2 separate regions of the Homo sapiens genome follow, and region 2 is linked to region 1. Evidence: fine-mapped expression QTL. A gene starts in region 1. The other region holds a variant in brackets. All regions are shown on one strand. Distances are between the middles of the regions. Region 1 holds the start of TMC7 (transmembrane channel like 7). Region 2 overlaps TMC7 (transmembrane channel like 7).

Region 1 (5,372 bases):
GAGATGGGGTCTCACTGTGTTGCTCAGGCTAGTCTCCAACTCCTGGGCTCAAGCCATCCTCCTACCTCAGCCTTCTAAAGTGCTGGGATTATAGGCATGAGCCACTGCGTCCAGCCTTTTTTTTTTTTGAGACGGAGTCTCACTCTGTTGCTCAGGCTGGAGTGCAGTGGCACAATCTCGGCTCACTGCAAGCTCCGCTTCCTGGGTTCAAGCAATTCTCTGCCTCAGCCTCCTGAGTAGCTGGGGTTACAGGTGCCCACCACCATACACAGCTAATTTTTTGTATTTTTTTTAGTAGAGACAGGGTTTCACCATCTTGGCCAGGCTGGTCTCGAACTCCTGACCTTGCGATCCACCTGCCTTGGCCTCCCAAAGTGCTGGGATTACAGGCATGAGCCACCACACCCAGTCTCCAGCCTCCTTTTTTTTTTTTTTTAAATGACCTTGACAGTTTTGAGGAATACTAATCAGGTATTCTGTAGAATGCCCCTCAGTTGAATTTGTCTGATATTTTTCTTATGACCACAGAGGTAAAGTGCCCTTCTCATCCCATCGTAGGAAGGGTGCACACCATCCTCATGGCTTAATGTTGATGTTAACTTATTTACTTATTTACTTTTTTTTTTTGAGATGGAGTCTTACTCTGTTGCCCAGGCTGGAGTGCAGTAGTGCAATCTCGACTCACTGCAACCTCCGCCTCCTGGGTTCAAGAGATTCTCCTGCCTCAGCCTCCCTAGTAGCTGGGATTACAGGCGCCCGCCACCATGCCCAGCTAATTTTTTTGTATTTTTGGTAGAGACAGGGTTTCGCCATGTTGGCCAGGCTGGTCTCGAACTCCTGACCTCAAGTGATCCACCTGCCTCGGCCTCCCAAAGTGCTGGGATTACAGGTGTGAGCCACTGATCCCGGATGATGTTAACTTTGATCATCTGTCTGAGACAGTGTTTGTCAGGTATTATCTAATATAAAACCCACCCTCACCCTCTTCCACCACCACTTCCATACTGCACTCTTTTGGAAGGATGTCGCTATGGGCAACTCACACTTAAGGAGTAGGGAGCTAAGCTCCCCATCCTTAAAGTATCTACGTAAATGATTTCAAAATCTGCACAGGAGATTTCTCTCCATTTTCCCCATTTATTTATATTTAGCAATTACTTTTCTTTTTCTTTTTTTTTCTGAGATGGAGTCTCCTTCTGTCGCCCAGGCTGGAGTGCAGTGGCGTGATCTCGGCTCACTGCAACCTCTGCCTCCTGGGTTCCAGCGATTCTCCTGCCTCAGCCTCCCTGGTAGCTGGGACTACAGGCATGCACTACCATGCCAGGCTAATTTTGTATTTTTAGTAGAGACAGGGTTTCACCGTGTTGGCCAGGATAGTCTCGAACTCCTGACCTCAGGTGATCCTCCCGCCTCGGCCTCTCAAAGTGGTGAGATTACAGGTGTGAGCCACTGCGCCTGGCAATTTTATGTTTTTAACCTGCACACGAACAGAGGTAGAGATGAAACGAGGATATAGTGCAAAACGTAAAAGACAAACACTGCACGTGGTTTTCTCTTCACTCGGCCCTCTAGCTCCCCACCCAGAGCTACCACAGGTAGCCAGTTTTTTGCACCCTCTAGGGAGATAGCTTAGGCATTTACAAGCATGTACAAATATATTTTTTGGTTTCCTTTTTGTTCCCAAATGGTAACTTACTAGATGCACTGATTTGGAGTCTTGGGGTTTTTTGCGTGTGGACTTTTTATTTTTTAATTTTAAAGATGGGGGTCTCACTGTGTTGGCCAGGTTGGTCTCAAACTTGTGAGTTCGTGCGGTCCTCCAGCCTCGGACTCCCAAAATGCGAGGATTACAGACGTGAGCCACCACTCCCAACCAGTTATTTTTGTTATTTATTTCTTTATTAGATCAGGTTTGATTTTAGATGCAGGGGGTCCATGTGCATGTTTGTTACATGGGTGTACCGGGTCCTGGTGGAGACTGGGCTCCCAGTGCGCCCAATCTATTGTTATTTTTTAAGCTCAGTGAGACATCAGGGAGGTCGCTGCTTGTCGCCACCGCTGGATGGAGCCTTGCCGGATCTCCCGGGCTCTGCAGCCCCTCTGCGGTCCCTGATGCTCGGCTCCTCGCGGGGGCGCCCCACTCCGGCTTCTGTGATGTCAGCGCCGGAACCTGGAATCCCGGCTCCGCGAGGGAAGGCCGGGGAGGCGGCGGCGGCGGCGGCGGCTGGAGAGGGTCCTCGGCAGCCTCTGAGGAGCGCGGGGCGCGGCCATGAGCGAGTCCAGCGGCAGTGCGCTCCAGCCCGGCAGGCCCAGCCGGCAGCCGGCGGTCCATCCAGGTAGGGCGGCAGGGAGCGCGCGCGGGGACGGTGCCCCTGGGGTCCGAGGGCGCACGGAGGGAGCCGGGTGCTGGAGGCTCGGCCTGGCCGCTGTTCCCTCCCACCCCCGACGCCGGGTGCTCCCGGCTCTGGGGAACAGCAGGTGGGAAGGAGATCTTCCTTATTCCTGCTCCCTCCACAAACGCGTCCTCATCCAATCCAGTGGAACCCAGCCGGGCCAAAAGGACACGAGAACTGCAGTCTGGACCGTGGTGGGTTTGTCTTCCAGCTGTTGACCGAGACAGTCTTTCAATAGCCTCATCTGCTGTTAAATGAAAGGATTTGAGCACCCCCTCCACGCCTAACATTCTGGTATGAGGTGCCTGCCTCCCGGACATTTCAGCCTTCACATACAGTTAGACCAACTTGAAACCGAATTCTGCCTTGTCTGTTTATTGCTGTGGGACCTTTGGTAAGTGGCTTGCCTTCTCTGAGCCTCAGATCCTTCAGCAGTAAAATGGGAATAGAATGGGGCGGGGATTAGCTGAGAATCGTGTGATGTGTCTAGCACAGTGCCTGGCATTGTGGCTAGACAGTCACAATAAATGGTAGCCAGCCAAGTATTATAATCTTTTGTATCGGGTAGAATTACAGTAAAGTATACAGCTCCATGAATTTCTACAGAAATATGTACAACGGCTGCCCAGTCAGGATAAAAAAGTTGCCAGCACTCAGGCAGGGTTCCTTGTAGCATTTGGAGCTTACGAATCTTGTCCTGAACAAAACACAAGACCCTGCTGTAAAGTTTTATCTGCAATGTTTTCTCTTTTTCAGTTTTAGAATAGAGATTTACTGAAACCAAGGATGTAGGGCCGGGCGTGGTGGCTCACGCCTGTAATCCCAGCACTTTGGGAGGCTGAGGCGGGTGGATCACGAGGTCAGGAGTTCAAGACCAGCCTGGCCAAGATGGTGAAACCCCATCTCTACTGAAGATACAAAAATTAGCCAGGAGTGGTGGTGGGTGCTTGTAATCCCAGCTACTTGGGAGGCTGAGGCAGAGAATAGCTTGAACCCGGGAGGCGGAGGTTGCAGTGAGCCGAGATTGCGCCACTGCACTCCAGCCTGGGCGACAGACCAAGACTGTTTCAAAAAAAAAAAAAGAAACCAAGGATATAGAATAAAACATGAGTGTAGATTTGGTCATTGAGGCCTTCAAATTGGATTGTTCCCAATGTCCAGAAGAAAAAAAAAATTTAGAAGAGACCCAAATCAGAAAACAAAAGTTGGGGTGGATTCAATGCGAATTATTTTCTAGCTCAATATTAATACTGCTTATGTCAGCTGAATTTCAGCCTTTCAATAACAGCTAGTCAAGTATTTTTTTAGTTGGTTCCTATTAATAGTCATCTTATTTTAGTGGAATCCATTATATTGAAGATGTCAAGTTCCTCATTTCCCATACAAAGAATGTGAGATTCATCTTTCTTGCATCTTTGCTAAGTGTATGAGGGGACTTTTGGCATCTTTTCAGGAGGACTATAATTGGGCCCTCTAACTAAAAAGTCTTCTATGCCCCTTAGATAGATGAGTTTTTTTTTTTTTTTTTTGATCTTGTACCCACCAACATTGGTGGGAGGCTCAGAAGGGACTGTGTTTGTAACTTTGTAGCACTTTCTAAACAGTGACCTGTTGTATGGGCATTATAGGACAGTCCGTGGGGTGGGGCGGGGGATGGGGGAGGCGACAAATGAGGTCTGGTTTAAAGAATGAGAAGTGTGACCAGGCATGGTGACTCATGCCTGTAATCCAGCACTTTGGGATGCTGAGGCAGGAGGATCACTTGAGCCCAGGAGTTTGAGGTTACAGTAAGCTATGATTATGACACTGGGCTCCAGCCTGGGTGACAGAACTAGACCCTGTCTCTAAAAAAAAAAGAAGAGGTATGTATCCTTCTAAATGATAAAACAGATCACTCCCCTGCTTACATAAAACTTTCCGGTGGCTGGCCAGGCACAGTGGCTCACACCTGTAATCCCAGCACTTTGGGAGGCCGTGGTGGGCAGATCACGAGGTCAGGAAATCGAGACCATCCTGGCTAACGTGGTGAAATCCTGTCTCTACTAAAAACACAAAAAATTAGCCAGGTGTGGTGGCATGCACCTGTAGTCCCAGCTACTCGGGAGGCTGAGGCAGGAGAATCGCTTGAACCCGGGAGGTGGAGGTTGCAGTGAGCCGAGATTGTGCCACTGCACTCCAGCCTGGGTGACAGAGACTCTGTCTGAAAAAAAAAAAAAAAAAAAGATGGGTATGGCGGCATGTGCCTGTAATCCCAGCTACTGGGGAGCCTGAGGCAGGAGAATCGCTTGAACCTGGGAGGCAGAGGTTACAGTGAGCCGAGGTTGCACCACTGCAGTCTGCCTGGGTGACAGAGCTAGACTCTGTCTCAAAAACAGAAAAACAACTTTCCGGTGGCTTCTCACTGCTCTGAGAATAAACTCCAGGCTCTTCCATCGCAACCAACAGGATCTGGTGATTCGACCCCAGCCCCTCTTTCCAGGCCCTCATCACCTTGATCCTCCCTTAACCTATCCTGCTCTAGCTGCACTGGCTGCCTTCCTATTCCTCCAGCATACCAAGATTGTTTCTGCCTCAGGGTCTTTGCATCTGCTGTTCTCTTCGCCTGGACTCCTCTTGGTTCTTTTTTTTTTTCTTTGAGATGGAGTCTTACTCTGTCGCCCAGGCTGAAGTGCAGTGGCGCGATCTCGGCTCACTGCAAGCTCCGTCTCCCGGGTTCATGCCATTCTCCTGCCTCAGCCTCCCGAGTAGCTGGGACTACAGGCATCCGCCACCACGCCTGGCTAATTTTTTTGTATTTTTAGTAGAGACAGGGTTTCACCGTCTTAGCCAGGATGGTCTCGATCTCCTGACCTCGTGATCCGCCCGCCTGGGCCTCCCAAAGTGCTGGGATTACAGGTGTGAGCCACCGTACCCGGCCATAGAGCAGCCTCTTCCTTTTCCTGTTGGGTCTCTACTCAAATGTCATGTCAGAGAGGCAGA
Region 2 (5,372 bases), 22 kb after region 1:
CCTATCTCAAAAAAAATAAAAAATACCAGGGCAACGGCCGCCCCTACTGGGAAGTGAGGAGCCCCTCTGCCCGGCCAGCCGCCCCGTCCGGGAGGGAGGTGGGGGGGGTCAGCCCCCCTGCCCGGCCAGCCGCCCCGTCCGGGAGGTGAGGGGCGCCTCTGCCCGGCCGCCCCTACTGGGAAGTGAGGAGCCCCTCTGCCCGGCCACCACCCCGTCTGGGAGGTGTGCCCAACAGCTCATTGAGAACGGGCCAGGATGACAATGGCGGCTTTGTGGAATAGAAAGGCGGGAAAGGTGGGGAAAAGATTGAGAAATCGGATGGTTGCTGTGTCTGTGTAGAAAGTAGAAGACATGGGAGACTTTTCATTTTGTTCTGCACTAAGAAAAATTCCTCTGCCTTGGGATCCTGTTGATCTGTGACCTTACCCCCAACCCTGTGCTCTCTGAAACATGTGCTGTGTCCACTCAGGGTTAAATGGATTAAGGGCGGTGCAAGATGTGCTTTGTTAAACAGATGCTTGAAGGCAGCATGCTCGTTAAGAGTCATCACCAATCCCTAATCTCAAGTAATCAGGGACACAAACACTGCGGAAGGCCGCAGGGTCCTCTGCCTAGGAAAACCAGAGACCTTTGTTCACTTGTTTATCTGCTGACCTTCCCTCCACTATTGTCCCATGACCCTGCCAAATCCCCCTCTGTGAGAAACACCCAAGAATTATCAATAAAAAAATAAATTTAAAAAAAAAAAAAAAAATACCAGGGCAAGTGAAGCCCTCTGTGCTTACCTCTGCAGGTTGGCGTGAGAAATGAGGTGACGTCATGCTGGGAAAAGTGTGTGTTATATGCAAACGAGGGGGTGGATCCTAGTTATAAAAATAATGATGCCTGTGTTCAAAGACATGGTCGTGACATTTTTTGTTTGAAGTTGAGGAACTTCCCTGGAGTGTCTAAAGAGGAAAAATCAGAACAGTTCTTCCTAGGAGGGGGTAGGTGGTGTATGAAAAACAGGATAATTACCTAGTTGATTTGTATGGAATTTTATTTTTATTTTTATTTATTTATTTGTATATATTTTTTGGGATGGAGTCTTGCTCTGTTGCCCAGGTTGGAGTGCAGTGGCGTGATCTCGGCTCACTGCAACCTCCGCCTCCTGGCTTCAAGCAATTCTCCTGCCTCAGCCTCCTGAGTAGCTGGGATTACAGGCACTTGCCACCATGCCTGGCTGATTTTTCTAGTTTTAATAGAGACGGGGTTTCACCATGTTGGCCAGGCTGGTCTTGAACTCATGACCTCAAGTGATCCACCTGCCTCAGCCTCCCAAAGTGCTGGGATTACAGGCGTGAGCCACCGTGCCCAGCTTATACGGTATTTTAACATTTACAAACACTTTTAAATCCATGGCCCCCTGAATTTTTTCATGGTGAAGACTACAGCTTTGGGGTCTGATAAACCTGTGATGGGTTCCTAGTTCCAACACTTACTGTGTGAGCAAGCAACACTTACTAATTGTCTGAGCCTCAGTTATTAATCTGTAACATGGAGATAATTCTTTTGTTTGTCTTTTGGGTTTTTTTTTTCTTGGAATTGGAGTCTTGTTATGTTGACCAAGCTGGTCTTGAATTCCTGGGCTCAAGCAATCCTCCTGCTTTAGCCTCCCAAAGTAGCTGAGACCACACCAGCACAATGGGGATAATTCTCTCTAAAGAGTAGTTCGGAGTATTAAGTGTGACGATGCATGTTAAATACTTTATTTTATTTATTTATTTATTTATTTATTTATTTATTTATTTATTTATTTTCTGAGACGGAGTCTCGCTCTGTCGCCCAGGCTGGAGTGCAATGGCAAAATCTTGGCTCACCACAAGCTCTGCCTCCTGGGTTCACGCCATTCTTCTGCTTCAGCCTCCCAAGTTAGCTGGGACTACAGGCACCCGCCACCATGCCCGGCTATTTTTTTGTATTTTTAGTAGAGATGGGGTTTCACCATGTTAGCAGGATGGTCTTGATCTCCTGACCTCGTGATCCACTCGCCTCGGCCTCCCAAAGTGCTGGGATTACAGGCGTGAGCCACCACGCCTGGCCCGCATGTTAAATACTTTAAATGGCCTGGTACAAGGTAGGCAAGTACTCAATAAATCTTAGCCAGTGTTGTTCATGTTGTTTGCAACTCCTTCCTCACCATCATGCTGATGAGGCCCATGGTATTAGATCCTCCATTCCCGAGATGAGAAAAATGTGACTCTGAGGCAGCTGTGGTCTCTCCTGGGGTGGCTTGGCTGGTGGGTGACAGGCCAGTATTTTAAACCAACCCAGGCTCCAGCCTGGGGCCCCTGACCCC[A/G]CAGCTGTTGAATATTCAGTAGGTCCATGCTGTTCTATATTCAAAGACCTTTGTTTGTGGCTAATAATAGCTCTTTGTTTCTGCTTGCAGGAGGGTAGCCTCCATGCAGGGCTTAGACCCTTTTCCTTTTCAGGGACCACACCCACCCTACCCTCATATTGGCTCTAGGGAGCCACTGCCACTAATGGAAGTGTGTCATATCCTCAGGGTGTGCCAGGCAGGGAGGTAGAAGGGTGGGTGAGGCTCGTAGACTTGCACATGGTGATTGGCAGGGCCCCAGCCACGTGTCCATGTGTCATCTACAGTGGGACAGCTGCTCCATTGTGTCTGAACTTGCCTATCCGAGAAAGGCAAAGATTACAGTGTCAGAGCCAGGCCTTGACCGGTCCCCACCTGGCCCTGCCCCTGCCCATCCTCATCCGGTTGGTGCCTTTATGGAGCTCTGTGTGTGCCGAGCACTGCCTGGGACCTTCTACCCATGTGATCCCCTTTAATGTTCATAAACAGGCTGTGTAGCAAGTCCTGACCCCAGCCTTGCCCTTGCAGCCTCCAGGGTGACCTTTTTTTTTTTTTTTGGACGGAGTTTCGCTCTTGTTGCCCAGGCTGGAGTGCAATGGCACGATCTCGGCTCACTGCAACCTCCGCCTCCTGGGTTCAAGCGATCCTAAATAGCTGGGATTACAGGCACGCGCTAGCGTGCCCAGCTAATTTTGTATTTTTAGTAGAGACAGCGTTTCTCCATGTTGGTCAGGCTGGTCTTGGACTCCCAACCTCAGGTGATCCCCTTGCCTTGGCCTCCCAAAGTGCTGGAATTACAGGCGTGAGCCACCGTGCCCGGCCCAGGGTGACCTTTTAAAATGCAGTCAAAGCACAACATCCCAAGGTCCTGCCACAGTCTACAAAGCCTGACTTGGTTCGACCCCAGCCACCCCTCTGACTTTAACGTTTCCATTCTCCCTGTCCTAAATACCTATTGTTGCTCAACACACTGCTCCAAATGTGCTGGCTTAAGCCATGTTGTTATTTCTGCTGATTCTGTGCATCAGGGACGATGCAGGGCACGGGGGAGCCCGCTTGCACTGCTGCCTGGGATGTCTGCTGGCGCTGGAGCACCCAAGATGGCCTCATCATGGCGATGCCTGGTGAGGATGCCCCAGGGGTTTTTTTTGTTTTCTTTTGTTTTGCTTTTTTGAGACAAAGTCTTGCTCTGTCGCTTAGGCTGGAGTGTAGTGGTCCAATTTCGGCTCACTGCAACCTCTGCCTCCCAGGTTCAAGCTATTCTTCTACCTCAGCCTCCTGAGTAGCTGGGATTATAGGCGCGTGCCACCACGTGCAGCTAGTTTTTTTTTTTTTGTATTTTTAGTAGAGATGGGATTTCACCATGTTGGCCAGGCTGGTCTTGAACTCCCCACCTCAGGTGATCCGCCTGCCTCGGCCTCCCAAAATGCTGGGATTACAGGTGTGAGCCACCGTGCCTGGCTGTCCCAGGGGTTTGAAGACACGAGCCTGGGGCCTTGGTTCTTGCAGTCACCCAGGTTGTTGGTTCTTTTTGTAGGCTTAGGGGCTCTTCCTCTCCACCTCATTGTCCTAGGCAGTTGGACTTCCTACCAGGTAACCCTGGCCCGAGAACACAGAAGTGGCTACTGCAAGGCCCTCTTATGACTTTGGGCTGGAAATGGCAGAGCATTACTTCCATTGAGTCCTTTGGTTAAAGCAAGCACAGGTCCTGTGCAGATTCAAGGAGGGGACCACGCAGAGGGCCAGGCCAGTGTGGCTCATTGGAGGCCACCAACGAAACCGCCCACCAGGTTCTTGCTCATTAACTCTTCCTCCAACCTGTCACACACTCTTCTGCCGCTGGGCCTTTCCACTTATGGGTTCCCTCTGCCTGGGGTGCTTTTCCCCAAATATCCAGGGGTCTCACCCCTTCCCTTCATTCAGCCTTAGCTAAATGTCACCTTTAAAGAGAGACCGAGATCACGTGCCACTGCACTCCAGCCTGGGTGACAGAGCGAGACTCCGTCTCAAAAAAAAAAAAAATAAATAAATAAAATAAAGAGAGACAATACCTGACCCCACCTTATCAAAAACAGTTTACCCCTCTCATATCACCTCTGTCCCCTGACACCACTCTGTTCTTTTTTTTTTTTTTCATTACACTTATCACTTCCTGGCATAATATTTACTGCCTGTTTATTATTTGATATCCCTCTCCCTCATCTCAGAATATAACTGCCGCGTGAGTAGGGCACTTGCCTTGTTCACTGCAGTTCCCTTAGTTCCAGATATGACATATGGTAGATAGAGTTGTTGAATGAGTATTTGAGATGAGGAAACTGAGTCTTAGAAAGGTTAAGTAACTTTCACAAAGACATACAGCTAATAAGTGACAGAGTGGGGATCCAAACTCAAGCATTTGGCATTGATCATGAAGCTTTGCTGCATAGAAGCTTTGCTGCATAGGGGTAATTGCTTAGGTAATTATGGCTGCCTGCCCCCTCTTCTCCCTGAGTCCTGTCTGTCTCCACTCAGAGTGATCTTCCTGCAACTAAAATCTGATCAGGGATAAAACCCATCTTGAAGGTAGCTTCCCTCCCCTTCAGCAGAAAGCCCGCCTGCCTTAGCCTGCTGCCCAAGACACAGCAAAGCTTGGCTTCTAGCTCTGGCCTGATATAGAAACGATAAGGGTTTTGGAGTCAGCCCTGGCTTTGTCTGCAGTGCTCCCAATCACCAGCTCTCTAAATGCAAGCAAATTAGGAATGTCATTCATTCTGAGTGTCTGTGGTTAGCAGGGCGGTCAAGCTGGCTGAAGACTGGTCTGGAGCGGCCTCAGCTGGGGCAGTCATCCCACATAGTCTCATCTTCCAGCAGGCTAGCTCAGGCTTGTTCTGGCTGGGCTCCAGAGACAAGCAGAAGTCTGCAAGACCTCCTAAGGCTGGGCTTAGAACTGGCCCAGCATCACTTCTGCTGTGTTCTGTTGGTCCAAGCAGATCAGGAGGCCAGCCCAGATCCCATGAATATGTGTGAAGCTCTT

What was found. PIP is the estimated chance that this variant, and not a neighbour inherited with it, causes the effect. A credible set is the group of variants that fine-mapping cannot tell apart.
Region 2: its variant is the best candidate, but not a certain one, in a credible set for the expression of TMC7 in tibial nerve (GTEx, PIP 0.89).

The regions. Positions count from the first base shown.
Region 1 is chr16:18,981,795-18,987,166 of GRCh38, forward strand. It overlaps TMC7 (transmembrane channel like 7), which reads left to right and starts at 2,140. Exons shown (of 16, transcript NM_024847.4): 1 at 2,140-2,336. The coding sequence starts at 2,270. RefSeq lists a silencer at 2,051-2,110.
Region 2 is chr16:19,003,306-19,008,677 of GRCh38, forward strand. The region is part of intron 1 of TMC7 (transmembrane channel like 7); the gene reads left to right. Among named protein-coding and RNA genes, the nearest start is that of TMC7, 22 kb to the left of the region's middle. The variant A/G (reference allele first, on the strand shown) is at 2,339.